2 separate regions of the Homo sapiens genome follow, and region 2 is linked to region 1. The links come from fine-mapping of genetic effects on gene expression. A gene starts in region 1. The other region holds a variant in brackets. All regions are shown on one strand. Distances are between the middles of the regions. Region 1 holds the start of TMEM229B (transmembrane protein 229B). Region 2 has its middle 19 kb from the start of TMEM229B.

Evidence for each region.
Region 2: its variant is fine-mapped to the expression of TMEM229B in whole blood (TOPMed, PIP 0.97).

Annotation. Positions count from the first base shown.
Region 1 is chr14:67,481,222-67,496,540 of GRCh38, forward strand. It overlaps TMEM229B (transmembrane protein 229B), which reads right to left and starts at 7,500. Exons shown (of 3, transcript NM_001348543.2): 1 at 7,287-7,500; 2 at 5,779-5,951. It also overlaps a transcript of GPHN not described here. RefSeq lists enhancers at 6,842-6,911, 7,075-7,574, 7,212-7,631, 10,181-10,721, 10,722-11,261.
Region 2 is chr14:67,500,550-67,515,153 of GRCh38, forward strand. It overlaps a transcript of GPHN not described here and a transcript of TMEM229B not described here. Among named protein-coding and RNA genes, the nearest start is that of TMEM229B, 19 kb to the left of the region's middle. RefSeq lists a silencer at 14,411-14,540. The variant C/T (reference allele first, on the strand shown) is at 8,402.

The DNA.
Region 1 (15,319 bases):
ACAGTGAGCTATGATTGTGCCACTGCACTCCAGCATGGACAATGAGCAAGACCCTGTCTCTTAAAAAAGAAAGAAAGAAAGAAAAACAAAAAAGCGAGATGGGGGAGAGAGAAATATGGTGTGCCCCAAGCCCAGATTCTGTTTCTGGGCAGCAGGAAGCCATGGGTAGTAGATGGAGGGGAAGCACACCACGGCAATGTCAGACAGTGTCCGAGGGCAGAACTAGGAGAACATAGCTGGTCCATGCAAGACCAACAGGGGAAATGAAAGACCTGAGTCAGGGCAGAAGATGGGGTTGAAGAGAAAGGAATAGGAGACAGTGTCATTGGCTGAGGTGGCAGCTCCCAGTGTGGTGGGGAAGATGATAATATTAGAGGCTGGGCATTGACTTGGATGCGTTTTCAGAACCCCACTCTCCAAACCCATTTCTAATCAGCACAGGAGCTGTGCTTAACTTTGAGCTAGGACAGGCTCGCCCACCCCATACAGGGCCTGACAGGCCTCTATTCCCTGCCCCGGCCTCCACCCACCCGACTCCCTATATCCTTAGGCTCCTTCCACTAGCTCCTTGCTCAGCCCTGGGATCAGAGCCCTGGGAAAGCCTGCTGCAGGGAGAACCGGCAGCTCAGGGGACCTTGGCTTCTTTCTCCTGGTGACAAACAAAACTGTCCTGAGACCTGTGACATGAAGATAGGACAGCCCAGGAACAGAAATTCAGGGTGGATTGAAGAGGAGGAGAGTGTGAGCAAGGTTGAATGCAGGAGGACAGAGTTTGGAGAGCAAAGGATAGCTTCACAAGCAGGGTTTCATTGAACAACATTCAAATCCGAGAGTCCTCATACCTGATGAAAGGGCCTGGGCAAACAGAGTCCCATCGAAGGGCCAGGACTCAAGGTGACTTGTGAGGTCTAGGAACTACCCCTTCAAGGGAACAGGTGATGGGGAAGGGGAAGGGGATCTGGCTTTCAGAGCCCTGTTCACTAAGAGCATCTCACCGGCTGCTCTCCGAGCCTGCTGTTCCACAGGGTGGCAGGGGACATGGCCAGCAGTTGAGAGGGGTAAAGAGGCTGCCATAAAAGTCTAAGACAGGCTGAAGGCAAAACCAGATGGAATAACTGCCCTTGGTTTTGTCAAAAACTCCCATCTTGTTTCAGGGGGCTAAGGTGCCACAACACAGTGACTCTGGGAATTTTTGTCCAGAGAAGCATCTGGCCAGAAAATTGGGATTCCCCTCCCATGCAACCGGGCTGGGAAGGCCTTCCGCTTTCACTCCACTCACTTCCCAAGCTTCACTCCCCATCCCCAGCCACCCCCATCACTACAGTTCCATGTTCTGGGGAGACCCACAGCCCTTCTAGGAGACCCCTGAGGCAACGCAGCGGGGGACAGCTTCAGGAGCCCTTGGGCGGCTCTGTGCTGAAGATAAGTGGCTTCAATGAGGAAAGGGCAGAAACCTCCCTGAACTTCCCCTGTTGTCATCAAGTTAGCAGGGAGGAAAATAGGGCTTGCCCAGGGCCAGAAGGGAAGCAAGTGGAGGGAAACTCCTGTAGCCACTGGCTGGTGCACATGCTGCAGACTTCCACCCTCTTGCTGTGGGTGCCCCCCAAGGAAAGCCCCTGGGATTAGTGATACTGCAGGCCTTGATGAAGTCCTCCCTCCACCTCCCAAGTCACAGTAATAATAATAACCAGGTGCTCTTCTCAGTATTTCCATGTATTAACTCAAAAAATTCTCAAGCCCATTTTACAGATGGGGAAAGTGAGGCAGAAAGAGGCTACGTTCTTTTTTTGTTTGTTTTTTGTTTTTTTAGATGGAGTCTCACTTTGTCACCCAGGCTGTAGTGCAGTGGTGTGAACTTGGCTCACTGCAACCTCTGTCGCCCGGGTTCAAGCAATTCTCATGCCTCAGCCTCCCAAGAGGCTGGGATTATAGGTTCCTGCCACCACACCCAGCTAATTTTTGTATTTTTAGTAAAGACGAGGTTTCACCATGTTGGCCAGGCTGGTCTTGAACTCCTGACCTCAAGTGATCTGCCTGCCTCGGCCTCCCAAAGTGCTGGGATTATAGGCACGAGTCACCACACCTGGCCGAGCCTACATTCTAATAACTATAAAAGGCAAGGCTGGGATTCAAACCCCACAAATCTGGTTCCAGAGTCTTTGCTCCTAATCAGCACACTGCACTGCCCCCGAGGCTGACTGCAGGCTCCTCTGAGGGCACTACCATTTTCTGAGTTCCTGCTTCTGGAAGGCTGGGATGGTATGTGGAGAGACAACAGGAAGCAAGGAGAAGGTTGTGAACTTCTAGGTGGTTCATTAACAAACTTCCCAACTGGGTGTCAGAGTTCCTAAAGGCTCCCAGCCTGTTCCTCGGGATCCACACAGAGGCCCTCCAGGGTCAAAGCTGACAGTCACAGGACCATGACAGCAACCAACCCTCAGGCCCCAAGGCATGCGCCATTCAAAGGCCCCTCACCAGGACACACACAACCCAGAGGCCCCCTGACTGCCAGCCCACACCAGTGCTCCTGGGAGTCTCAGATGGCCCGGCCCAGCCCTGCCATGGAGACACCAGCCAAGAGCAGGGGCCAGCTGCCCAGAGGAGCAACAGCCAGCATGTCAGGAGGAGCGGTCCGAACACAGAGGATTTCAGGGGGCCTCAGATCCCAAGCAAACCGCAGCAGGAGGCAGGGCAGGGTGAGTGGGCTTGGGGGATGGAGTCAGTTCTGGCACAGAGGTCCCTGGGGCTCAGAAAGCGAAGGATGCCCTGCACGGGGGACTGGCAGGCTGGCATCCCAGACCTGTATGTGGCTGCCTTGCTGTTACCATTCAGATCTCAGCTGAGCTGTCATATCTCAGGGACTTTTGATCCCCAGTCCAAAATAGCCTCTCTGTCACTCACATCATTCCATTTTATTTTCTACATAGCACTTTCACTTTCTGATATGTTGCTACTTATTTATGGTCTGTCTCTCCTCAACTAGAATGAAAACTTCATGAGAGCAGGGGCACTGTCTTGTTCACTGCTGTTTAGTCAGTGCCTAGAGTGGTGCCTGGCAATAATACCTAGTAATACTTGTGGAATGAATGGATGGATGAGTGGGCCCAAACAGGCCCAGGCCCTTAAACACTGATGAGGGCAGGTATAAACAGCTAGCTGCCTCGGTCTCTCTTCCCTCCTTTCTTGAGAAATATAGCCTTCTAAAACATTTAATTCTAGCATTTAATTTTTTTTCTAATTATAAAAGCAACATGTGCTCACAGCTGAAATTTAAACATTACAGAATGACATAGAAAGCAAAAGTTCCCTGTAATCACACATCTTAGAGAAAGTCACTATTAATGGTATGTTGTGTAGTCATCCGGATTCAATTTTATTTTTTAAAAAGCCAATCCATGCATCATAGAAGAAGCATTCATAGGCCGGGCATGGGGGCTCACACCTGTAATCCCAGCATTTTGGGAGGCTGAGGCGGGAGGACTGCTTGAGCCCAGGAGTTTGAGACCAGCCTGGGCAACATAGTGAGACCTCATTTCTAATAAAGAAAAAAAAAGAAAAAGCACTCATAATTCTGAACTAACAGCGATTACCATTTCTCCTTTGCAATATTTTCCTATGTGTGTATTTTACAAGTCACCATAATATACTTATTCTGCAACCTGCCATTTTTACTTGTCATAACTGTTTTTCCAAGTTGTTATATAGCCTCTGTGCTCATTATTATAATGGCTGTGTAATATTCCAGCAAGCGGAAAACTGTAATTTACTTAACCTAGATGTCCAAAGGGAACAGTTGTTTCCCATTTCTACTACTACAGATGATATAACGAGAATTACCTTTAATGCCTGTAATGGAAGAATTCAGCCCTTTTCTTCTCTGGTACTATTTCCTAATAATATATCTTAATGGATAATTCCAGAAGGAGAATCACTGAACCAAACGGTACAACAGCCTTAAGGCTGATGGCATAAATTGCTCTGGGGAGATGTGCCTCCCATCTGAGGAACGACGTTCCCACAGAGGCACCCATGGCCATCTCTTTACCCCCAACTCCCCTCCTACAGTCTAGGCTTGCTCACACCACCCTGGCTACAAATCAACTCAAGAACACACTTCCTGAGAAACTCTCCAGTCAAACTGACTTTGTAAGCCCAGGCTGAGTGGAAAACAGATTCTGGCCCTGAATTATAAACTGTCAACTAGGAGAGTCAAGATCTACCTAAAGTGGAAAAAGACCTGATTACCCCTTTTCTACTCCCTGCAAATTCCTGCATGGAATCTGAAGCTCTGGGTTCCCATGGACCAGCCTAGGAACTCCAAAAAAAGCTTGTCTGTTCAAGATTGCAAAAGCCCAGCTCTGCCTGCCATGCCTTCTGGGGAGCTTCCTTCCTGCAGGCCTCTGATCCCACCAGGCTACGGGCCCTGCACAGACATAACAGCCTTCAGGCCAGACAGGCCTCTGGGGGTTGGGAAAGCAGCCAATTGTCATTTTTTAAGGCATCATCAAGGAAAAGCCAGGGGCTGAGGCTGGAAAGAAAGGCCTGTGAGGACAGGCAGGGCTGTGCAGTTAGGAGCCTCTCACCCTACCTCGAGCTTGTCTCGCTGAGGAGGAGATGCTGCTGCTGATATGTGACAAAAGCAAGAGGACATGCTCCTCCAGATCCCCTGGTGGTCACTCTTATGGCAGCTAAGGCTCACAAATCCCCCCACCTCCCAGGGCCCTGGATGCCCTACTCCAGGCCTCCTAGACCAGCAGCACATGCATTGCTCATGGCTTCTGGGCAGAGTCCAGTCCCAGGTGATGCATGGTCCTCACTGCACAGATCTGAAGCCTGACGGCCAAAGTAGATGCTGTTTCCCAGGTGTGAGTGCTCGCTTCACTCACGCCAGACAATCTGAATGATATGGTTTGGCTGTGTCCTCACCCAAATCTCATCTTGAATTTCCACCATGTTGTGGGAGGAACTGGGTGGGAGGTAATTGAATCATGGGGCCAGGTCTTTCTCATGCTGTTCTTGTGATAGTGAATAAATCTCATGAGATCTGATGGGTTTTTGTTTTGTTTTGTTTTGAGACAGAGTCTTGCTCTGTTGCCAGGCTGGGGTGCAATGGCACGATCTTGGCTCACTGCAACCTCTGCCTCCCAGGTTCAAGCGATTCTCCTGCCTCAGCCTCCTGAATAGCTGGGACCACAGGTGCATGCCACAATGCCCAGCTAATTTTTGTATTTTTAGTACAGATGGGGTTTCACCATGTTGGCCAGGATGGTCTCAATCTGTTGACCTTGCGATCCACCCACCTCGGCCTCCCAAAGTGCTGGGATTACAGGCGTGAGCCACAGTGCCCGGCTGATCTGATGGTTTTATAAGGGAGAGTTTCCCTGCACAAGCTCTCTTTCTGCTTGCTACCAACCTTGTAATATGTGACTTGCTTCCCCTTGCCTTCCACCATGATTGTGAGGCTTCCCCAGACACGTGGAATTAACCCTCTTTTTCTGTATACATTTTCCACTCTTACGTATGTCTTTATCAGCAGCACGAAAACAAACTAATACACTGGGTCTGGCCTGGATTTTAGAGGCCATGTGGCCATAAGACGGCTCCCGCATGTGATGGCCCAATATTGCTTGACATTCCCCTCCCATTGCCCTGTGACAGGACCTTGGATGGGGAACAGACTCAGAACTAGAACCTCCAGACTCGTGCCCATGCTGATGAGGTGCCGAGCAGGCAGGATCGCTGGGCTGGTGATCCCCTGGGTGCTTGTAACATACTCACTTATCACACCCTTGAGTGTGCAGCTCACAACAGACATCAGGATCACTGTCCAGGAGTGTCCTGGGTTAACCTTTGTTGGCTGGGCCTCAGTGCCATTCTCAGCAACGTAGGCAAGCATCAGCCCTAGGGCTCAGCTGATCCTTGGCTGGGGGGCTGGCAGCTTCCATGTGTCCCTGGGAATAAAAGAGGAGGCTTTTATTAGCTTAAACTGCCCCCAGCAGATCCAAGAAAAACATTGCAAGGGCCTGGGCTCTGGGCTCAGCACCAGACACTCATCCCACCCTGGCCACCAGGGCCCCTTCCCGGAACCTACCCCCTCCTCTTTGCATCCAGTTTGCTCAGGTCTGATTAATCCAGCCACAAAAGTCTGGGATGGTCCTGGACAATCCACATGTCCAGGGTTAGGACTTAGGGCTTCTTGCCTAAATGTGTGAACACTTGTGAATCTGAGAGGGGATATAATTTTAGAATCCAGCTCCATTCTCATTCAGCTTCAAATTACATTCTCACCTTCACCCTGTAGTGGGTACATCTGTTCTCAAGGGCGGTCAGAACCTCATGGAAGGCAGACAATGTAGGACATTCGTTTCAGCACTTTGAAAGCAGAGAACAACCACTCGTGCAGAAAAACAAAATGTGTGCTAAACCTTTCTACGTACTATTCTACCTCTCTAATATTTATTCATCTCATTTTATTATTTCACCATTATTATGGTTGAGGCCCTTCCTATGAACATCAGTAACCAGCTACAAGCTAATACAAATCTTACTTTATAATGCCCTTTGCCATGTACTTTAAAAAAAAAAATCAAGTAGAGACGGGTCTTGCTATGTTGACCAGGCTGGTCTCAAGCTCTTGGCCAACCCTCCCACCTCAGCCTCCCAAAGTGCTAGGATTATAGGCGTGAGCCACTGTGCCTGGCCAGCCATGTACAGCCATGTTTTTACTACTATCCCTAAGACTTGACTATTTAATGGAGATTCCAACATTTTTTGTTTTAATATGAAAGTGCTAAAGCTTCCCTGAAAACCCCCTGGATACAACACCATCTGCATATGCCCAAGGACAGCACTCAGGCCCAGCATGGCCCTCTGGGACAGCCCAGCCACTCAGAAGCTGAGAACAGTATGTGGCTGGGGGTGGGAGCTGGCACTCCCCTGTGGATGACCAGGCAGGATGGACCAGAGGTGCTGGTCTGTGCTGATGCCCATGTCCACCTTCCCCACTCCCCTCTGACCACCAGGGTCTCTGAGTAGAGGCCGCTTGGGCCCTTGCTCAAGCTGACAACCTGTGAGGCAGCCAGGCAGCCGAGGAGAAGTGAAAGGGCAGGAGTGGGGGAACTGAAACTCACTGTATGGTGTGGTTTTGGGGGGTGCCCCCCTGGGTCTCCCCCCGGGGCCTCTGCACTGAGAGCATCACAGTGGGCTGCTGTGCTCAGCCTTGCCTCCCCCTCCCCAGCTCCTTCACAAACGGGACCCTCCAACCCTCCCTGATCTGTCCATCTTACCGGCTTCTTCCAGCCTGCCGGATGGCGGACAGGGGTCACCTTGACACGTACCTATCACCTTGAGGAAAAGGTTTTAACGGAGCATGTCCGAACCCTCTGGGACTCTCTCTCCACCAGCACCACAAGGACCATGTGCCTGGGGAGTTCAATCCCACCTGTGGAGACTTCTCCCCACCCTAGGCCCTCAGCCACATCCACGGCACAAGTCAGAACTAAAACAGAAACAGAAACCAAAGACCACATCCTGCCGGCACAGCCTGCGGGTTACTGCAGCCAGCTCTGGGAGCCCACTGCCTGCTGAGGTGCAGCCCTGGCAGATGAAGCCCCAGCACTCAGAAAGGCTCCTTTTGAGGGCAGTGTCCCACCAGACACCTCCCACTTCCTGGTCTGCAGGCTTTTTCCCCAGGAAAAACTTAGTTGCAGGGAGGATGAGATGATGGTGCACCTCTCCCTCCAAGTGCATAAGCTGTCCCTAGGCCTCACTGACACTCCCTATCCCCCAAGAGTAGATCCCAGGGGACAGGGGACATGAGGCTCCTTTGAGGACTGCAGGACCTGAACCAGAGTTTCTTGGAACATATGAATGAATGATGAGCCCTTATAGCAACTAACATATGGATGGAACTTAGATCATCTCTCATGATTTTCTCAGGCTCCTGAGGGGCAGGAAGGGCAGAAATGGTCACCTCTATTTTAGAAATGAAAACACAGAGGGTTCAGGACATTAAGAGATTTGGCCAAATCCAAACATTTGATTCAAATCCCAGTCCTCAGCCTCCAGAATCACCCTGTCCCCATACAATGTGCCTTCGAACTGCTTCCCACCCAAATCTCATCCTTAAGGCACATGTCTGCATGCAAGGGTCTTCAAGTCAGTGTAAACTACTTAGTCCATTCCAAGTAAGCTGCTTATTTTGCAAACTTATAGCTGAGTTTGTCCATGCAGCTTCTGGTCAATATGCCTGAGACGCTGCTGGGAGCGTGAAGAAGCAGAGACCACCGGCCTGTTTCAAGCACTGTCATCTCTCCTGCCCTCCTCTGCAGCCACCATTCTGACTCCTTCTTCCAGACCCTGCTCCCTCCTCACTCCTTTGCGATGCCGTCCCACAACCTCCAGGTCATTCCATCACTGATGTTCCCAGGGGGATCTGACCATCCTTCAACTGAAACATGTCATCCCATCTTAAAATTCTTTCTATGTAGCCGGGCGCGGTGGCTCACGCCTGTAATCCCAGCACATTGGGAGGCCGAGGCGGGCGGATCACGAGGTCAGGAGATCGAGACCATCCTGGCTAACATGGTGAAACCCCATCTCTACTAAAAGCACAAAAAATTAGCCAGGTGTGATGGTGGGCACCTGTAGTCCCAGCTACTTGGGAGGCTGAGGCAGGAGAATGGCGTGAACCTGGGAGGCAGAGCTTGCAGTGATCTGAGACCACGCCACTGCACTCCAGCCTGGGCGACAGAGCGAGACTCCGTCTCAAAAAAAAAAAAAAAATTCTGTCTATGTGTCTGTTTCCCCCACCACGCTATGAATTTCTTGAGATCATAAAATTTCTGCTGGATGGATGGACAGGCAAGGTGGAGAAGGGCCCAGCTGCATTTAAATTCTTGGGCGACTGAAACATCCAATGTTACTAATCAAACATAGCAATGTCTTGTGTTTTTCTCTAATTTATAGGCCACCATCACAGATGAGCCATACATGTTGGTTTACTAAAGGCAAGGCTGTCTCTGCAGGTGAAGGAAGCAAGGAGTGTGCTCACTCTCCTTTCTCCCATCTCCAGGAGCCATTGCACCACCAGAGAATGAAGAGAGGCAGAGTGGGCGGCCTGGGTTTGCACAATACAGAAGGCATGTCCAACATCACGCAAGGAAGACTGGGGCAGGAACAGACTGTTCCAGGCATCAGGGGAGATACTGCAGCCTCCTATGTGGGCAAGGGGCCAAGCGCAGGTTCAGGTCAGAGAATAACAACTCCTGTTCTGTTATTTCTACAATGTGCTGGCACTCTCAAAAGCCACATCAGTTTTCATGCACATAGGATTCACTTCCCAAAGAGGCTACTGGCAGGAAATTCCCTTCGCACCATTTTCTCTCCTTTCCTATAACTATTTAAGGTAAGCTGGGCTTGCAGGATTGAGTCTCTGCTTCTCTGACCAGAACCTAAAAATCAGATCTCTCTCCCCGGCCCCTCATCATCTCCTTGGCCTGGAACCTAACACTGGAGCCAGAAAGCATGCAGGCAAATACTACCTCTGTTTTTTTACCCCCACTCTCCTTTTCCTTAACACTCCCCAAATCTCCCTGTAAAGGAAAAAAAGTTTTTTCCTTCTGCTCTCACACTCAAAGCAGAACACTTCTGTGACCAGATATGGGGTGGGCGTGGAGGGGGGCAGATATGCCCCCCATATCTGGTCACATTTCTCCAGCAGACACCAACTGGGTCTCCTACAGTTCATTTAAACTCTGATGCTATCTATCCTGAGATAGCAGCAGATCCCACATTCTGAGGGCTCAGTCCCACAAGACTGCCCCCACTTCAGATGCCAGTCACAAGTAGATCGTCACCTATACTTCTGAACAATTGGTTACAAACCAGGGTTCCCATGACCGCCTCCTTGGGTTCTATTAATTTGCTAGGATGGCTCACAGAACCCGGGGAAACACTTACCTTTACTGATTTATCACAAAGGGTGCAGATGAGCAACCAGATGCAGAGATGGATAGGGTGACGTATTGGGGGGTCACCCACCAGCACCGCCACATGTTCAGCCACCCAGAAACCTATCAAATCTTATTCAAGAGTTTTTATGTAGCTTGATCTCCACCCTCCCACACCTTTCTTGGAGGTTGGAGGGTGAGGCCAAATGTTCTAATCCTCTAAGCATTTGGTCTTTCTGGAGACTGGCTCCATCCTGAGGCTGTCTAGCCCCTCCACCACCCCACCACTTCCCCAGTAACTTCATTAGCATAAACTCAGGTGTTATCAAAGGTGCTTATTATGAATAACAAAAGACATTCCTTTCACTCAGGAAATTTCAAGGGTTTTAGGAGCTCTATGACAGGGACCCGGGACAAAGACCGAATACATTTCTTATTACACCGCACCCTGACCCAGGTGCCCACAAAGTAGAGAAGATGCCTAAAGGCCCACTGGGGAGCCCTCTGGTTACTCAAAGCCCCCAGTTCTTCTCACGTGACTCAGAACAACCACTTTTACTTATCCTAGAGTAAGAAAAGCCCTGAGCACAAATGGATCTGGTAACTTCCTACACCAAGGAGGGGCCAAGCTCAACTACAAAAGCAATCAGTATTCCAGATTCCCTGAGGGGAAAGCCTGTGTCTGTCCAGCTCCCCCAGGAAGCAAGGAGAGGCCCAGGCCGCGGGGGCCTGCCTGGCATGGGGAAGGTGCATGGAGATGGGAGCCAGGCCCCAACCCCACGGGGCCCTGTCCTTCCCCTCTGTGCCCCTTGCTCTGAGCTTGGAAGCTGCATTGCCCCACCTGCCTGACATCTCACCCCACTGTCTTCTGTCTCACTTGGAGGCCACCTGTCCTTTCCCTCTCCTCTCCCCCTTCCTCCTCCCCATCTAGCCCACTCTATCTCACATGCCCCTCTCAAAGTCCCCCACTGAGCAAACCCTGACCACCCAACTCCATCGCCTTGGAGGGTGGTCTCTGGTCCCACGTCTATTTCCTCCCATTCCCACCCCCGGCAATCAGTAGCTGCTGCTTGCTGCCTGAAAGGCTGGACAGCTGCTGGGCTCTCTAATTAGCTGCCTGGCCGCCGTCCCAGAGTGAGGCATGTGTTACTGTAAAGAGCTGCCTCACCTTGCCTTCATCAATAATCCCCTATGCAGATCCCATCAGGCAGCGGCTGAGAGGCCCTAGAATACTCTGCACATGAGACCAGCAAGCCTTCTCCTGTCAGTCAGAAAAAAGAGGCAGTGGCCTCACAGCCTCACTGGCAAAGTGACCAGGATTTTATCTGGGTTCTTCCCACTACTGCCCATGTCCTTAGGGTGTCCTGGAGGTTACCCTGCCACGCTGCACCTTCAGAAGTGATGGGGACCCTGCCCCTTTGTTGCCTCACCAGGGAGGCAGAAAGAAGCCCAGCAGGGCTTTCAGAAGACAAGCCTGGACCGCTCTTATGGTGTGACAACAGGACTCCGCTTTTCACAGCCTGTACAGCCAAGCCACCTAGAGATTTCTAAACAACAAGGGAACTTAGTCCAAGAAGTCCTGTGGTAGCTGGTTTATTTATTCAAGGTGTTATATTCCAGCAGTCAACAAATATTTACTGAGACCCAGTGAAGGCCAGGTACTGTACCATGTGTGAACAAGACAATGTTCCTGCCCCCTTGGAGCTCACAGGCAGGTGGGAGATCAGCAATAACTAAGCAGCTCTAAACATACTATAAGTTTTAATATTATGCCATGAAGATGGGGAAGGCCAGGTGGGGGAAATAAAGAAACCCGATGCTGGAAGGTGAGTCTTAAATGTTAAGGAGGTAGCATTTGGGCATAGGTTAGAAAGATGAGAAGAAGCCGTGCAAAGAACTTTGGGAAAAGCATTCCAGGCAGAGAGGACAGTTAGTGAAGAGACCCTGAAGTAGGAGAAAGTTAGACAAGTTTGAGAAACAGCAAGGCCAGAGTAGCTGGTGTTAGGCACAGTTTATCTTCAAAGGTTTCAGTTCCTTGTTCTTTGTTCTATTCTGAAAGTAATCTTACCCATCCATCTATCAGCCCTCCCTATCTCTGTTGCACCCAAACACGCCCAAGCATATGCCATCACCTGTGTACTTGTCTTTCCCGCCAAGTGCCCACCCTTGCCTCCTTTGATGATGTCAACAGTAGCCAATCGGAATTAGTTTAGATTGTGCGGTCCAACCCCAGCCAACACAGGGAGGACACAGGAACAGGGTCTGTGTTAGGGATAAAAACCCCTGCTCTCCTTTGTTCAGTGTGCTCTCGTGATCGTAACTGACACAGGCCGCACCCTTCTGCAGGAGTAAATTGCCTTGCTGAGAAAACTTTTTCTGCCTGAGTGCTGGTTTCACTTTGCGACACCAAGCTTTATTTCCAACACTGAGGGTCAGTGTGCTTTGGATGCTGTCAATACCCTGCCTGTTGGGGTGAGCATCAGGCCCCAGCCTGGCCAATCACAGCACCACATTCCCCTGGTTCTGTGATTGGTTCAGGGATGGATACATGCTCCAATCAGAGCCAATCCTGAGATTCTTGTTGGAATGGCCACAGAGACCACAAAAGAGGCATCCTTTTCTTTTTTGTTTTGGACTTGGAGCTATAAGGATGTCAGTCTGAAATTGACAGGGTAAGGCCAGGGGCAGTGGCTCACACATGTAATAAACTTATTTATTTATTTAAAAATAATTTTTTTTTAATTGAAGGATGAGAGTTGTTCTGGGGAATCTGTGACAGTTGCTGTCTGCTCTCCATCTGAACCAATCGGTACTGTTCCTTTCCTTAAGTAACAGTCCACAGGAAAGACCACCATGCACTCAGCTGGACACTGACCCCAGCCACACCAGGCACCTCCACCATAAGCCTTAAGCCCAACAACCCCTGCCCTTCACTCAGCCCCTTACTGGACAGCTCCATCTACTGAGAAAGCACCCAGTCTTGCTAATGCTTAAAATATGGCGCCAAACAGCACTTAGGCAAGAGTAATTAAAGGGAATGTTATCTCAGTCAGTCTCTCATTAACCATGTAATTAGACTGCTGAAAATAATTAACATTCCTTTTGACAAAGGATAAGAGGACCCATTACATTCATTAGGACAGCCTCAAACCAGCCTGAGAAAGGCCGAGAAGAGAATTTAGAAATGAGACCCAAAGAGGTTATGCAGCTTTCTCAAGGTCACAGTGCTAGTAAGGGCAGGGCTAGGATTTGAAGCCAGGCAGTGTGCCTGTGGGTTCTGTGCTCTATCAGAGAAGCAGCTGTGGGGGCTACAAGGTTTCAGCCAGCAAATCCAGGCACAGGAAGGGCCCTGAATTGGTGGTTATTGAATCTGGAGCAGCCAGGCCAATCGGCCCCGCCCCCACACACCATGCTTATACTCTGGACACGGGTTGAGAGGTAGGGGATGCCTAGACCAGCTCTTGTCAGTGCTCAGCAGGTACATCCCACCCTCCTGTCCACAGCCGGTGATGGCTGGCTGTGGTGCACAGAATCAGCATTCACAGAGAGGTGACCTGAAGACCCCAAGATCCAACAGAGGAACACAGAACGAAGGCTCGCCCAACATTTGACAAGAACCAAGGCTACAGAAGAAGCACCAAATTTTAAAAACAGAAGTGGCCAGATGCAGTGATTCAGGCCTGTAATCCCAGCGCTTTGAGAGGCTGAGGTGGGAAGATTGCTTGAAGTTAGGAGTTTGAGACCAGTCTGGGCAACATAGTGAGACTTTGTCTCTACATAAAAATTTAAAATTAAATAAAGCAAATGGGGCAAAATGTTAATCACAGGTGAATCTGGGTAAAGAGTATATGAGTGTTTTGTACTGTTCTGGCAACTTTTCTGTACATTTGAAATTATTTCTAAATAAAAAGTTTGGAGGCAAAAACATCAGGGACCCTCTTATTAGGACAGGGGGTGGGGCCCAGGAACAGACATGGAGGCAAATCCAGGGAGAACCACACTGGTCATCAGAGGTCTCCACTGGGCACAAAAATTCCAGCTCTGGGGTTTCCGCCTGCCAAATCCCTCCTGGAAACATTTCCTCTTCCAATTTGGCCCTCCTTTTTCTTGCTTCTCCATTGATTTACTCCCACCTCCTCCTCCCAGGATCAACAACCTTGCAGAAGGCATCCATCCTAATGCCAGAAGACGGGGTTAAACTTTGGAGTGTATCCGTATATGTAGTTAATATTTCCTGGAGATATTTTGACACCTGTTTTGTCCACAGCCCATAATAATGAGTCAGGTTACATTTGTTAAATCACAGCCTTCTGGATTTTTTTTTTTTTCAGATGGAGTTTCACTCTTGTTGCCCAGGCTGGAGTGCAATGGCACAATCTCAATTCAGTGCAACCTCCGCCTCCCAGATTCAAGCGATTCTCCTGCCTCAGCCTCCTGAGTAGCTGGGATTACAGGTGCCCCGCCACCATGCCCAGTTGATTTTTGTACTTTTAGTAGAGATGGGGTTTCACTGTGTTGGCCAGGCTGGTCTTGAACTCCTGACCTCAGGTGATCCACTCACCCCGGCCTCCCAAAGTGCTGGGATTACAGGCGTGAGCCACCATGCCCAGCCAGCCTTCTGGATTTTATATTTTATTTCCCCTAAAGTTACATGCTATTCCAAGTCACACTGCCTGACTTAGGCCTTGAGGCCATGTTCCTACCTTCTGATCTCTCAGGCAGGCTTTCTAGGGTAGGTGCCCCATTTCAACACCTCAGCACCATCACAGCCACCTAATTCCAAAGCAAAGCCCTCAGACACAGGCACAGCCTCCTCCTCAGGTTCACTGTCACAGCTGTGTGTGGCCATGTTAGATAACGCACAGCCAAACAGCTGAAAGAGTCTTTACCCACTGTAGTCCCAGCTATTCAGGACACTGAGGTGGGAGGATTGCTTGAGCCCAGGAGGGCAAAGCTGCAGTGAGCTGAGATGGTGCCACTGTACTCCAGCCTGGGTGACAGAGTGTGACCCTATGTCTTATTATTATTTTTAAAAATTTTGTATCTATTTATTTATTTATTTTGAGACCAGGTTATGAGACTGGCTAATTTTTGTATTTTTGGTAGAAACAGGGTTTTGTCATGTTGCCCAGGCTGGTCTCAAATTCCTGGGCTCAAGTGATCCACCCATCTTGGCCTCCCAAAGTGCTGGGATTACAGGTGTGAGCCACTGCTCCGGCGTTTTTTTTTTTTTTTTTTTTTTTTTTTTTTGAGACAGGGTCTGGCTCTGTCACCCAGGCTGGAGTGCAGAGGCACGATCTCTGCTCACTGCAGCCTCTGCTACCCAGGTTCAATAGGGTGTGCGATGACTCTTGAGAAATTAGTTTGTG
Region 2 (14,604 bases), 19 kb after region 1:
TATGATTTTCCATGTGCATTTGGATTTTTTTTTTTTTTTTGAGATGGAGTCTCGCTCTGTCCCCCAGGCTGGAGTGCAGTGGCGCGATCTCGGCTCACTGCAACCTCCACCTCCCAGGTTCATGCCATTCTCCTGTCTCAGCTTCCCGAGTAGCTGAGACTACAGGCGCCCGCCACCACGCCCGGCTAATTTTTTGTATTTTTACTAGAGACGGGGTTTCACCGTGTTAGCCAGGATGGTCTCGATCTCCTGAACTTGTGATCCGCCCGCCTCGGCCTTCCAAAGTGCTAGGATTACAGGCATGAGCCACCGCGCCTGGCCTGGATATTTTTTAAAGTTTTAAAACATCCAGTCAAAGCAGCTATAAGAATTAATCGCAAATTGACTCAAATGAGTAGCTGCATCATCTTCCAGATGAAAGTAGAAGAACAAGGTTCATTTGGGATCCAAAGAAACATCCAGGTATAGAAAATGCCTCCAGGTATACTTGGGGGTTAATAATAATAATAATAATAATAATAATAATAATAATAATAAAGAAAATGCCTCTAGGAGCCAGCTGCTCTGCATGAGCTAACTTGGCCTAGGGGCAACAGGTCCCAACTAGCTTGAACGAAATGCAAACCTCCAGCAGGTACTCCCTGCCCTGAGGACACATCAGTTCATCCCAGAGTCATGGCAGTGGAGTTAGGAGAAACGGAGGGATTGTCTCACAGGCTAGAACTAGGGTGAGACAAGACATGCACTCAGCTCAGACACAAAATTTAAGGGAGTGCCAAAATATTTAGTAATCAAGATAAACGATACCTTATTATTTTTATTTATTTATTTTTGAGACAGGATCTTGCTCTGTTGGCCAGGCTGGAGTGCAGTGGCATGATCATAGGTCACTGCAGCCTCGACCTCCTGGGCTCAAGTGATCCTCCCACATCAGCCTCCCAAAGTGCTGGGATTACAGGCATGAACTGCTGCACCCAGCCAAGATAAATGATATTTTAAAAAATCAAGTTGGTAAGCCATGGCCACAGGCTATAGTTATATTGGAGCCAGGGCTGAGATTAGGGACAGGCCAATGAGGCAGGGTCCCAGGTGAGGTTCTGTTATGTTTGAAGAGCCCAAAGACCTGTCCTGCTCCAGTGCCAAAGGCATCTCTGTTGAGGAAGGTCGTATAGCACCAAAGTCCCCTATCTAAGAGCCTTGGAATTCAGAATTCTAAAGATTTTTTAAAAGGTAATGTAGAGCACATATCATAAATTACATAATCCTCACAGCAGGGTCTGGGGCAGCACCCACTAATCAAGCACATTCACGTTTCTATGGTGACATCTACGAATATTCATACTGTGCAATGTGAGCCTCTGTTAGACCAAGTCAGATTCTTCTGTCACTTGAGTGAAAGAAAATCTTTTGGTTTTATAGTGCTTCAGATTTCAAAATTGCAGATAAAGGACTGTGGGCCTTAATAGCATGACGTTAGGTCTCCTAAAGAAAAAAGGCAACAGACTGGGCACTGTGGCTCACACTTGTAATACCAACACTTTGGGAGGCCAAGGTGGGTGGATCACCTGAGGTCGGGAGTTTGAGACCAACCTGACCAACATGGAGAAACCCTGTCTACTAAAAATACAAAAATTAGCTGGGTATGGTGGCATGCGCCTGTAGTCCCAGCTACTCGGGAGGCTGAGGCAGGAGAATCACTTGAACCTGGGAGGTGGAGGTTGCAGTGAGCCGAGATCGTGCCATTGTACTCCAGCCTGGGCAACAGAGTGAGACTCCATCTCAAAAAAAAGAAAAGAAAGAAAAAAAAAGAAAAAAATGCAACAGATAGGACCCAAACTTTTGTTATAAACTTGTGCTGAAAAAAGAACTGCAAAGTCCTTGCTGGTGATCACCCAGAAGGTGATTTCTTTTTTTTTTTTTTGAGACTGAGTTTTGCTTTGTTGTCCAGGCTAGAGTGCAATGGCATGATCTCAGCTCACTGCAACCTCCGCCTCCGAGATTCAAGCAATTCTCCTGCCTTAGCCTCCTGAGTAGCTGGGATTACAGCCATGTGCCACCACGCCTGGCTAATTTTGTACTTTTAGTAGAGACGGCATTCCTCCATGTTGGTCAGGCTGGTCTCAAACTCCCGACCTCAGGTGATCCACCCACCATGGCCTCCCAAAGTGCTGGGATTATAGGCGTGAGCCACCGCGCCGGGCCCCAGAAGGTGATTTCTAAAGGTCAGTCAAGGCCAAAGCAGAGTGACCACAGGGCTTATTTCCCAGCAGCCAACCAACCAACTTTATTAAATACTTTCTGTGTGTAAAACCTTGTACAGGGTCCTGAAATGTATTAAGATTTACAAAACAAAGTTCCAGCCTTTGGGAGCTTAAAAATTAGTGGAGACAATATGGTAAGCAAAACAACCATGGAATATTAAAAACTGAAGGGATATCATCCGGACACACACTTTAAAGATGAAACCAATGTTCAGGGAAGTTGAGAGCCTTGCGTAAGTTAGCAGACAAGCAGATAACCGCACGCTAACAAGCAGATAGTGGCGCTGCACGGAGAGATCAGGATCTGTGTTTGCCAACTGTTGTTCACTGTCCTTTGCATAAAAGCACATAATAATTGTGACCTGGTGACAAAATGACAAGAGGAGTTAAAAGATCCTAACAGAAGTGGTTTTGGTTAAACAAACTTGCAGCAGAGATGGTCTCTGGCTTCTAAAAGGACTACAGTTTGGGTAGGCAGCAAGGCAGGTGAGTGCCCTTCAGGCAGTGGAACAACTGAAGCAGGGGTGGGCGTGTGTATGCCAGATTAGTTGTGCAAGTGGATTAGGCTCTAGGAAAGGGCATAGAAGGATTTCCTGGGGGCGCTGGGGAGATACGTTTGGAAAAGCGTGTAAAGGCTATGGAGAGCTTGAATGACAGGGCAAAGGACGTCAATTACCTCCTAAGGCAGCATTTCCCATCCCTGCATGCCACCTTCATGACTCGGCATGGCTGCCCACTGCCCTGCGGGAAATGACAGAGGGTAGCAGTTTAAAAGTCCACACTCTGGAGTCAGATTCTTTCCATTCAAATCCCAGCTTTGACACCAATTATGTGACTTGGACATGCTGCTTCACCTCTCTGCCTCAGCTTACTTTTTTTAAATTATTTTTATTTTTTATTTATTTATTTTTGAGACAGAGTCTAGCTCTGTCACCCAGGCTGGAGTACAGTCGTGCGATCTCAGCTCACTGCAACCTCCACCTCCTGGGTTCAAGCAATTCTCCTGCCTCAGCCTCCCGAGTAGCTGGGATTACAGGTGCTCACCACCATGCCTGGTTAATTTTTGTATTTTTAGTAGAGACAGGGTTTCACCATGTTGGCCAGGCTGGTCTTGAACTCCTGACCTCGTGATCTGCCTGCCTCAGCTTCCCAAAGTGCTGGGATTACAGGCGTGAGCCACTGTGCCCAGCCTATTTTTTAATTTTTATTTTTATTATTTTTGAGACAGGATCTCGCTCTGTCACCCAGGCTGGAGTGCAGTCGTGCGATCTCGGCTCACTGCAGCCTCTGCCTCCTGGGTTCAAGCGATTCTCCTGCCTCAACCTCCTGAGTAGCTGGGATTACAGGCGCCCACCACCATGCCCAGATAATTTTTGTATTTTTAGTAGAGATGAGGTTTCACTGTGTTGGCCAGGTTGGTCTCGGACTTCTGACCTCAAGTGATGCGCTTACCTCAGCCTCCCAAAGTGCTGGGGTTGCAGGCGTGAGCCACCGTGCCCAGGCTCAGTTTGTTTGTAAAATAGAGAAAATATAAGTACGTTCCTCATGAGGATTAAGTGAGAAAGCATGTTTACTGTACTACAAACAGCAACCTGGCATTATAAGCTACCAATAAATGTCAGTTGTTGTCACTAACCTTTTCATTTAAGTCAGTTTTTTTTTCAGTTATATATGTACTGTAGCCTTGTTCTAAGCAATAATATCCACAAAATCATGGGCTTATTGTGACAATGATGGTTTTGATGATACACATATAACAAGATGTTAAATCAAAAAAATAAATAAAAAACAATAGGCCATGTGCGGTGGCTCACACCTGTAATCCCAGCACTTTGGGAGGCCGAGGTGGGTGGATCACGAGGTCAGGAGTTCAAGACCAGCCTGGCCAACTTGGTGAAACCCTGTCTCTACTAAAAATACAAAAATTATCTGGGCGTGGTGGCGGGTGCCCATAATCCCAGCTACTCGGGAGTCTGAGGCAGGAGAATCTCTTGAACTTGAGAGGCAGAGGTTGCAGGTGAGCTGAGATCTCACCATTGCACTCCAATCAGGGCAACAAGAGCGACACTCCGTCTCAAACAAAACAAAACAAAAACAAAAACAAAAACACAATAGAACACTTTAGATTCCTTTATTGTGCATTGCTGTGTTGCTTTTATGATTTCCCAAGTGCGTTTGGATATTTTTTAAAGTTTTAAAACATCCAGTCAAAGCAGCTATAGGAATTAATCAGCAAATTGACTCAAATGAGTAGCTGCATCACTTTCCAGATGAACACCAAGGTGCACCAAGATGCAACAGGTATAATGCTCGTAAGTGTGACACCAAAGAAGGATGCGCATTTTCAAAAGAGGTGCGCAAGGGCCCCTCTCTCAAGCTGAGGGTATAGAGGGTCAGAATGGGCAGAGACTGGGGAAAAATCTTTGTGGAGGAATTTTGGGGTTGCTGTTAGTGTGCTGTGATATCTCACCCTGTCCCCATAGAAAACTGGCCCTCCTGTCAAGCTGGTGAGAGGGGAATTCACCAGGACCACTCAGGAAACTTGATGTCTGTCCCCTGCAACTGGGAGGACATGGTGGACTGGCATCTGATCACCTCTTGAGACATCCAAAGGGTGGGACACACGTTGGCCATCTGCTGTTGGAGGAGCCAAGGGAGACTGCTGAGCTGGGGTCAGCCTGCCTTCCCAGGTTCACTGTGCCCAGGGATGTGTGATTGTTTCCTTGAACTAATGTGGGCCACATGCACTAATGTGGGCTGGCATGAGGTCAGAGCAGGTCTTCTCTGAGATGGTCTCTTGGGCAGACTGAAGGACCTTAGCTGAAAGAGGCTAGAGGTGAACCACTGGATTTCAGGGGCTGAGGAAGGAGCAATGATCTAGAATAGAGGATAATTTGCTCTTTTTTTTTTTTTTTAAACAGATTCTTGCTCTGTTGCCCAGGCTGGTATGCAGTGGTGCGATCTCAGCTCACTGCAACCTCTGCCTCCAGGGTTCAAGCAATTCTCCTGCATCAGCCTCCCTGGGATTACAGGCGCCCGCCACCATGCCTATCTAATTTTTGTATTTTTAGTAGCGACAGGGTTTCCACCATGTTGGCCAGGCTGGTCTCGAACTCCTGACCTTGGGTATCCGTCCATCTCAGCCTCCCAAAGTGTTGGGATTACAGGTGTGAGCCACCTCACCTGGCTGATAATTTGTTCTTTTCAAGACAATAGAAGTGAGACATCCCAGCAATTGGGAGGGTAAGGAGAGTTCTCTGAGAATCCGATAAAAATATGGACCAGGAAGCTGGAAGCCAGCAGAGTGTACCCAGTGAGCACTTTCCTGCCCCTCCCAGTCCAGTGACAAAGGAGTGGATGTATTTTTATTTTATTTTATTTTTTAGTTTTTTCCATGGGACTCTGCTTCATAAAGCGGGTGTATTTTGTACCTAGTTGAGACTATGCTTGTAAGACTTAAAGTGATCACAGAACCGTCTCCTATGAATAACCAGAAAAGTTACAGGGCCTAAGTTTTCACCCTAGACCAGGGAAAGAACTAATCCCACTGGATAAACATAAAGAGACAGTGGGAGGCAAAATTAAGTTGCTTGATGAGTACATTCCAATGAGTCATGTTTCTTTACACTCATTAGAAACATAGCTATTAAAATGAAATGTTTGTCCTTGTACCAAATGAAATCATCTCTCATCCCCCCAGTAGCATGGTACCCCCCATAAAAATAATGGGGATAGGGGAATAAGAGGTGAGGAAAATGTAAGACAGGTAGGGATGGAAAATATTGGTTTGGTGGGTTCAGTGGGAACTCATTTGCTCCTCAACCTTGAATATGATGAAATGAAAATAGAAGGAATGAAAGAATCCAAGGGTCCTTAGAAAATGGCTTTGTTTGGGCCAGGAGTGGTGGCTCATGCCTGTAATCCCAACACTTTGGGAGGCCAAGGCAGGCAGATCATGAAGTAAAGAGATCGAGACCATCCTGGCCAACGTGGTGAAACTCCATCTCTACTAAAAATACAAAACTTAGCTGGGGGTGGTGGCATGCACCTGTAGTCCCAGCTACTCAGGAGGCTGAGGCAGGAGAATGGCTTGAACACAGGAGGCAAAGGTTGCAGTGAGCTGAGATCGTGCCACTGCATTCCAGCCTGGCGACAGGGCCAGATTCCATCTAAAAACAAAAAAGGAAAGAAAGAAAAAGAAAAAGCCTTGTTCAAAGGGAACTGAAGATAGCCTAGCCATAGCCCAATTCCATGAACAAAGAAGACGTGGTCCCTGAGTTCCTGGGCTGAGTATATGGTTTAGCCTTGCCCTTTCAGGTAGTTAGGGCAACAGAGGGGGTTATACTCTCGCTAACACTGAGTTGCCCAGAAAGCACCAGCTAAATTAGCCAGGTGCTAATATAGGTGGTGCAACTACAGTCCTAGCTACTTGGGAGGCTGAAGTGGGAGGATTGCTTGAACCCAGGAGTTCAAGGCTACAGTGAGCTATGATTATGCCACTGCACTCCAGCCTGGGTGACAGAACAACATCCTGTCTCTAAAATAAACAAAAACAAAAACAAAAAAACATCAACCAGAGACCTCAAGTTCTGGAGACCCAAGTGGCAGAGGAGCAGGGATAGGGGGAAGAATCCTGGACTGAAGCAGACCCTGGAGTCCCCAGGGTCTCGGTCTTTTGTCCAAGCTGGAGTGCAGTGGTGTGGTCACAGCTCATTGCAGCCTCGACCTCCCAGGCTTAAGTGATCCTCCCACCTCAGCCTCCCAAGGAACTGGGAGTACAGACATGCGCCACCATGTCCAACTAATTTTGTGTAAAGACAAGGTCTCACTGTGTTGCCTAGGCTAGTCTTGAACTGGCAAGTGATTCTCCTGTTTCCATCTCCCAAAGTGCTAGGATTACAGGTGTGAGCCACCCTGCCTGGCTCAGTTTAAGTTTTAAGACAAGACATAAAGGTTGCTCCCCATGACATAGGAATGGTGAGTATAAGGGTGTACAGACACCACCTCTCAGCTGCCCCACTGAAGCGGTTAAAAGAGCAATGACTGGGCTGGGCATGTTGGCTCACGCCTGTAGTCCCAGCACTTTGGGAGGCTGAGGCCGGCAGTTCACCTGAGGTTGGGAGTTCCAGACCAGCCTGACCAACATGGAGAAACCCTGTCTCTACTAAAAATACAAAATTAGCCGGACGTGGGGGCGCATGCCTCTAATCCCAGCTACTCGGGAGGCTGAGGCAGGAGAATTGCTTGAACCCGGGAGGTGGAGTTTGCTGTGAGCCGAAGTCACATTGCACTCCAGCCTGGGCAGCAAGAGCTAAACTCCATCTCAAAAAAAAAAAAAAGAGCAATGACTGGTCCTAGTCCCCCTTCTTGAGAAGGGACTTCCTCCAGCTCTGACTTTGTTCCTTAGCTTCCAGTTTGACTTCTTTCTCCTTCAACACCATCTCTTCCCTCCCAACTCTGACTTCTGACAGTTCCAGACCAGCTGAGTTATTTCCTGAAAAAGGCTGGAACCTCAGCCTTTCTCAGGAAAGGCTGGATCATCTAGCATTATTACCTGAAGAGAGGTTAGAGAATATCTTGTCCAAATGATAAGAAAACTAAAAGCCAAAAAACTTGCATCACACGCCCAGAGTCACTGAGCTGTGAGGAGAACCCAAGTCTCCTGACCCCTTGCACACTGTTCCATCATACAGCCTCACGCTAGCTCTCCAAGAGGGGTCAGCTCACCTTCCTTGGACCACCACCTTAACCCTCATTCCTCTTCCATGAATACTTCAAAATGGTGGAAGAGGCCAGGTGTAGTTCTGCACCTGTAGTCCCAGCTACTTGGAAGGCTGAGGCTAGAGGATCCCTTGAGCCCAGGAGATAGAGGGATAGAGGCTTCATTGAGCTGGGATTGTGCCACTGCACTCCAGCCTGGGTGACAGAGCAAAACCTTGTCTCAAAAAAAAAAAAAAAAAACAGAAGACAATTAACTTGCTTGGAACAAACAAGAATGGATCCCAATCTACTAGCTGGTCACCTTTGAATGGAGAAATCAGTGGCTATAAATATTTTCTCAGAAGAACAGAATAATCTCATGTTTGCTGTACTTTGCTCAGTGTAGCTGGGACCCCAGAGTCATAATCAGGTCTCCACAG[C/T]TGAATTATAATGATGGGCAGGGAAAGGCCCAGAAACTAGGTTGGAGGATGAGGATTGGGGTCAAGAATCTGCAAAGATAAGCTTCTATGACTAGTGGCAGTAGGACAACAGAAATAAAAATGTTGCCCAAACAGACCGTTAAGCAAGAGGAAAATTTTGGTTTCAAAATGAAATGGGGTTTATGAGATGTATTCCTATGCCAAGCAGAAAGCGTGTTCCCTTTACAGTAACTCCCAGGCCATCTGGTCTACTTCCCTACTGCAGGGTACAGACCTCTCCTTACTGAACATTCATTGAGATGATGTTTTTCAAACAAGAATCTGTACTTCTGTCTCCTTTTAACTAGTTGTGTTTAATCCACATCAACTCTCTCTTTTTTTTTTTGAGACGGAGTTTCACTCTTGTTGTCCAAGCTGGAGTGCAATGGCATGATCTCTGCTCACTGCAACCTCCACCTCCCAGGTTCAAGCGATTCTCCTGCCTCAGCCTCCCAAGTAGCTGGGACTACAGGCACGAGCCGCCATGCACAGCTAATTTTTGTGTTTTTAGTAGAGATGGGGTTTCACCATGTTGCTCAGGCTGGTCTTGAACTCCTGACCTCAGGTGATCCACCCACCTCGGCCTCCTAAAGTGCTGGGATTACAGGCATGAGCCACCGCACCTGGTCAATTCTCCTTTTTATGTGTTAACCTATACTGCCTCCACTTTTACCCTCTCCCCAACATTTGGTCTATTATCTGATCCAAGCTTATAAAACACAATAGATTCAGACTGGCTGGGAGATGTGGCTTATCCCTGTAATCCCAGCACTTTGGGAGGCTGAGGCAGGAGGATTGCTTGAGGCCAGGAGTTTGAGACCAGCCTGTGCAACATAGCGAGTTATAAAGACTCTGTCTCCATATAAACAATTTTAAAAGTAGCTAGGTATGGTGGCACATGCCTGTAGTCCTAGGGAGGCTGAGGCAGGAGGATCACTTGAACCCAGGAGTTCAAGGCTGCAGTGAGCTATGATTGTGCCACTGCACTAAAGCCTGAGCAACAGAGAGAGAACCCGTCTCTAAAAAAATTTTTTTATTAAAAAAAAAAAGAATCAGATAGATCTCAATTCAAATCCCAGTTTAGACACTTACTAGCTGTATGATATGGGTGATCACTTTATCTTGCAGAGCCTCAGTGTTTCCAGCTGTGAGATGGGGATAATTAATAGTAGCTATCTCATTGATATGAGAAAAGAACATATGTAAATGCTTAGCCTAATAAATGGTGATTGTCATTATTATTGCCATGATCACTGAAGCCAGCTGAAGCTCTATTTGTGGAATTAAGTCTCAGAGGGCTGAAATGGGCTGTCCAAGGTCACACAAGTGAGTGAGTCAGGGAGGGATCCCAGATTTCCTGATTCCTGAAGCCTTTGCCAACCATCAGCTCACACACAGACGAATCATTGCCCAATGACCTAGAAATCGGGGTATCTGATCACATCCAAGTACCACAGCTGGTGATTTAATAAGCACTCACCATGTGTTAGAAACTGTGCAGGCTATATGAAAGCTTTATAGCATCTATAGGTCAGTATAAGAAGGTCATCTCATTGCTTATGCCAAACTAAAAGAAAAAGAAAAAGAAAACAAGACAAAAATCTGGAACCGCTGCTTGTGTTGCCCAGTGGTAATGATATTTCTTGTCCATGTGTGTTTTAAGAAAGTAGATGAAAGTAAGACCAATGCTCTGGCTGCCTTATTCCTGGCTTTGAACAGGCCTTTTTGATTGGGAACAAGGGGAAGAGAGATACTAAGGACTTAGGGACTAAAATGGGGTTTGGCCAAGGACAGCAATGAAAAAGGAGATGGGGGTTGTCAGTGGGCTAAAAACAAGTCCCTGTCGGTGCTCTGAAGAATGGCAGTTATTGTCAGCAAGGTGGGCTTCTCGCTGCACCAGGGCCTGTCCCTCCACTGACTGTGCAAGCAATGAAACCATGGAGCCCCAGGAAGCACATTTTATCTTGAAGCATGAATCACCCCTCAGAAGTCTAGAAAAGAATCCTCTCTTTGTGGCCCTTCAATCTCCTTGGCTGGCATCCCTAGCTCCTCAGGGCTGATGTCAAGGCCTTACTAAAACTCAGGGTGAGTGACCTTTCCAATGGAAACGGATCATTCCAGAAGCTCATGTGACAGGGGTGCCTCTTAATAACTGAAAGGAAACAATGAATGAATGGGCCAGCTAGATGGCATTCGTCATTCAAGTCTAACTGCAAAAGCAGTCAGAAGTGGATAATCCAGTATGTTCTGAATGAGGGGCTTTTGGAAAGCAAAGGAATGGCAGAAAGTGATCTCTCCCCTCATCTTTTCATATTTATTAGCTCTCCCTACATTAATTGACAGCTGAAGTCTTATTTAAAAAAACAAAAAAACAAAAAAAACTGTCATGCTTCTAGAAGATGGAGCAGCCGGAAGGAGCAATCTGAGGACCCGAGACCTGTCCGTGTAGATGGTTTGCCCTCATTTCAAAGATGCTGTCTCTTCTATAATACCAGCCACACTGGGAGCCGAGAATCCCGAAAAAAATATTAAACTCCCTACTGGGAAGCCAGCAGAGTAAAGGATGGTGAAAAGCTGGATGTTCAAAAACATGAATTGTCAATGACTTTGGTTGTTCCTCAAATTGCCAGACTGGATTGTGATCCAAAGGTAAGTGGAAGCACCAAAATCAGAGGAGGGTGGAAAGTCGCCTTTCAGAACCATCCTTTGAAGGAGCAGGGGGCCAGCATCACTCTGTGACCTCCGCTCCACTACATTTATACATAGGGGAACTGATGTTAAAATGAGCATGAAGTATAGCCTCACAGGGGAGGAGAGCCGAAGGCCACACTGGGTATAAATGCAGCCTGATGAATGGGAAAACAGGGAAAGGAGCAAACCCTCTTTTCCATCTTGGAAATGTGATGGTTGACTTAGCCTCAGTTCTATCTGTGGATGTGTGTGTCGGGGTGAAAACCACTGCCTTTTCCTTGAATCACAGCAGCATGGGGCATCCCACAGCTCAAAGTCTGAGGCAAATATACGTCTTGAACCAAACACCCTGGTACTGATGTAAATTCTGGTACGTAAATTCTGAGTGCATCTTTATCTTATAGCAGAAAAGTATAACCTATGGATCTACTCGGGTACTTGATTTTAAATGCTCTTAAATCCCAGGAAAGGAAAATTTCCCCAACACATGCATTCTCACACACCACAGCCAGTGTGACAACTCTCAGTGGGACTCAGTTTCCCTAAGGGGAACCAAACCAAAAGTGCCCCCCTCCTACCCCTTCCCTAGAAATCAGCTTACACTTTACTTTTCAAATACAAAGCCTGATTTCTGAGAAGTGATGTAGAGTAAGAAGAAGATCTGGCCAATAGAGGCTGAAATTCCTCAGCTCAGAACATGAGAATCCTGTCTGATATTCCCTCCTTAGCCAGGTGTTGCCACAAAGGGAGCTAAGGCTTTGCCAGGTCAGAAATTATCCTTGCCTTAAAAGGAATGTTCCTGCAATTCAAAAATACACCCAGACCACCTTGTCTGTATATGGGAGGTAGGGAGATGGGGGAGGAGAAAAGTAAAAGCATACAAACTTGAAAACAGCCAGGCTCTGGGAGGGTTAGCTATCCCTTCCCTCCCCTCAAGGACAGCCAGATCTGATACAGTTGCCGATAAGACCAAGCTGCCTCACTCTACTGCCCTTACCCAGGTCTTTCCTTATGACATCAGAGTCCCCAACATCATCGGAGACCCTCCTCAGAAACTGGAAGGTGACAGTCACTAACATTCTAGCTGGAAACTGTACACCAGGAAAAAGCCCACCAGGAAGGAGCTCCAAGCCATCCTGGGAGGTAAGCAGAAAAAAAAGCTTGCTGCCTAAGTGCTGCAGCGAGAGCTTTTCTGATAAAAACTACACTTTTAAAACCAACACTGAGCTTTGCCTATCACAAAAGCTGTAATTTGGTCCCTTCCTGTAAAATGACACCTTTCCCTTTAGAAACAATATGTAAATCTGATACAACCGAAATAAACACAGTATAAGGCTCACTAACTCATTTAATATCTTTCATTCAAGGACTTGAGGGTCTTAAATCACTTTATAAATGTAAAAATTCATGCCTCATCACTTCAAAACAGGAAGTTAGGAGAGTATCAATTTCCCATCTTAAGGTCAGTACATTTGAGGAACATGCCACGGAAAAGCCCATCCTCTAACCACTGGAGGCTCGGAGGTCAGGCCTCCATATCATTATCCTCAGCTCCGAATAAATAGCTTGGGACAAACCAATAAAGCCGCTCCAGTGGGGAATTGAGTGAAATCAATCCTGCCTGCCTGTTAGAATGGGAAGGTCCATAGAAGTGGGCCTAGCTGTGCTTCTCTGGTGCAGTACCTGCATCTGACTTTAGCCACAAATTGCAGGGCCACAAATCTATAGCTCAGGGGACTCAGTTTTCTCCTGCTACTCCTTATTGGTCCTGGAACCTCCGTTGCTCCTGTACCTATAAGTGGCCAAAATCAACACTAAAAAAGCCTGTTGTCCCCACCCAACGCCTGCCATGCTGTGTCCCCAGTTGCCTGTATCTGTCTCCAAACACAAAGCCCCTGATGGGGGCTAAGTGTCATCTCAGCACACCCCTGAGCAAAGTGTCTCTAGAGCAAAGTGTCCTGACAGGCCCACCCTGGCCCAACCTACTTGTATCCTTGTATCATTAGGTCATTCACACAGGCAGGCGGGAGAGTCCTCCACCAGTCTAGGGCCCTCCAGTGCCTTCTGTCTCACAGGGAAGCAGATGTATCTGTCTTCCAAACAGGGAAAAAAATCTGAGCTCCCAAAGGGCTATCCTGCCACAGGATAGGAGCTGGTGGTCACATGTAAGCCAGCTCAGAACTGAAGGCACCTTGTTCCTGGAGACATAAGGCCAAGCACTGGGGACCTGGAACCTGGCCCATTTGTTTTCTAGAGAGAAAGACACTGTACCACCCCCAAGGCAGGTTGCTTGGCCCTCCCTTGATCCCTCTTCCTGGTACAGCAGAGAGAAACCCAGGCCTCTCAATTACCCAAGGCTGATAGCCACAGCAATAGCTCACTTATTACTAGGGTGCTGAGAACACATGAGAATTGGTGAGCAGAGCCCCCAAGGTTACACCAGCAGAAAGCTGCCTGGGGTCCTGCTCTTTCCCTCCAGGGAGAGCCTTGAGCAGTGCCCGAACACTCTGCCCTCCTATCTCCAAGCTCTGTACCTAAGGCAGCCAAACACCCCCAGGGAAACCCTGGGGAAAGAAAAGAGACAGTCCCCGGGAAGGAAGGGAAAGGGGTCCGTTTCTGACTGAGCATAGAAAGAGGGAAAGGAAGATACCTGGGAAAGAGGCCAATGTCTCCCTGCCCTTGCCAGGAACCGGGCTGTAACACTCCCCATCCCAGCCAGGCATCTCTCACGGAGGACCAGAGATCAGGGAGGGCAGGTGAAGAGCTGGCAGCCAGGGGGCTGGGCTGGGCCCCAGGACACGGACCTGGGGAGTGGAGGGCGCCTAGGTGTGGGGTCCATCACCCAGTTTTTCCATGCACCCTGGGGAGAAGGCGGCGGGGTCATTTTGGCAGCGTTCCCTTCCCTTCTGGAAAGTCCTCAGCCTCTAATTCAGGAGGGTCCTTGGTTTCCACTCCCAAGCCCTGGCTCCCCAGCTTCCACCCAGACTGTCACCCCCCTCCACCCTGCTGAGGTGGCCTCCTGGGTGCTCTCCGCCCGGAAGAAGAGGAGGTGTCAACCTACCGCTGCCCCTCGCTTCCCCCTGACACCCCTTTGTTTCAGGCAGGGAAAGTTGCCAACGCGCACCCCCTTCCCCAACACGCCCCCCTGTGCGCCCATCCCCCGCAGGGAATCCAAGCCCCGGGCGCACCACCTATCTAATCTGCGGCTGGATCTCGAACCGGGGCAGCAGCCTCGAAACCGAAAGCAAAGAGGAAGCGGGATCTGCTACAGCCCCAAGTCCGGTCGCCCAGTCTTCCCCTCACCGTCCCCATCGCCCGCGCCCTCCGCGGTCGGAGCTGCCGGCCCCTCGCGGCCACCTCTCTGGGCGGCGGAAAGGCCTCTCTGCGGGCATAGGGGGCACCTACCGGTGCGGGGCCGGGGCCGTGGGTAGGGGCTGGGCAGAGCCGGCCGCCTGCCAGGCGCAGGTGCGGCT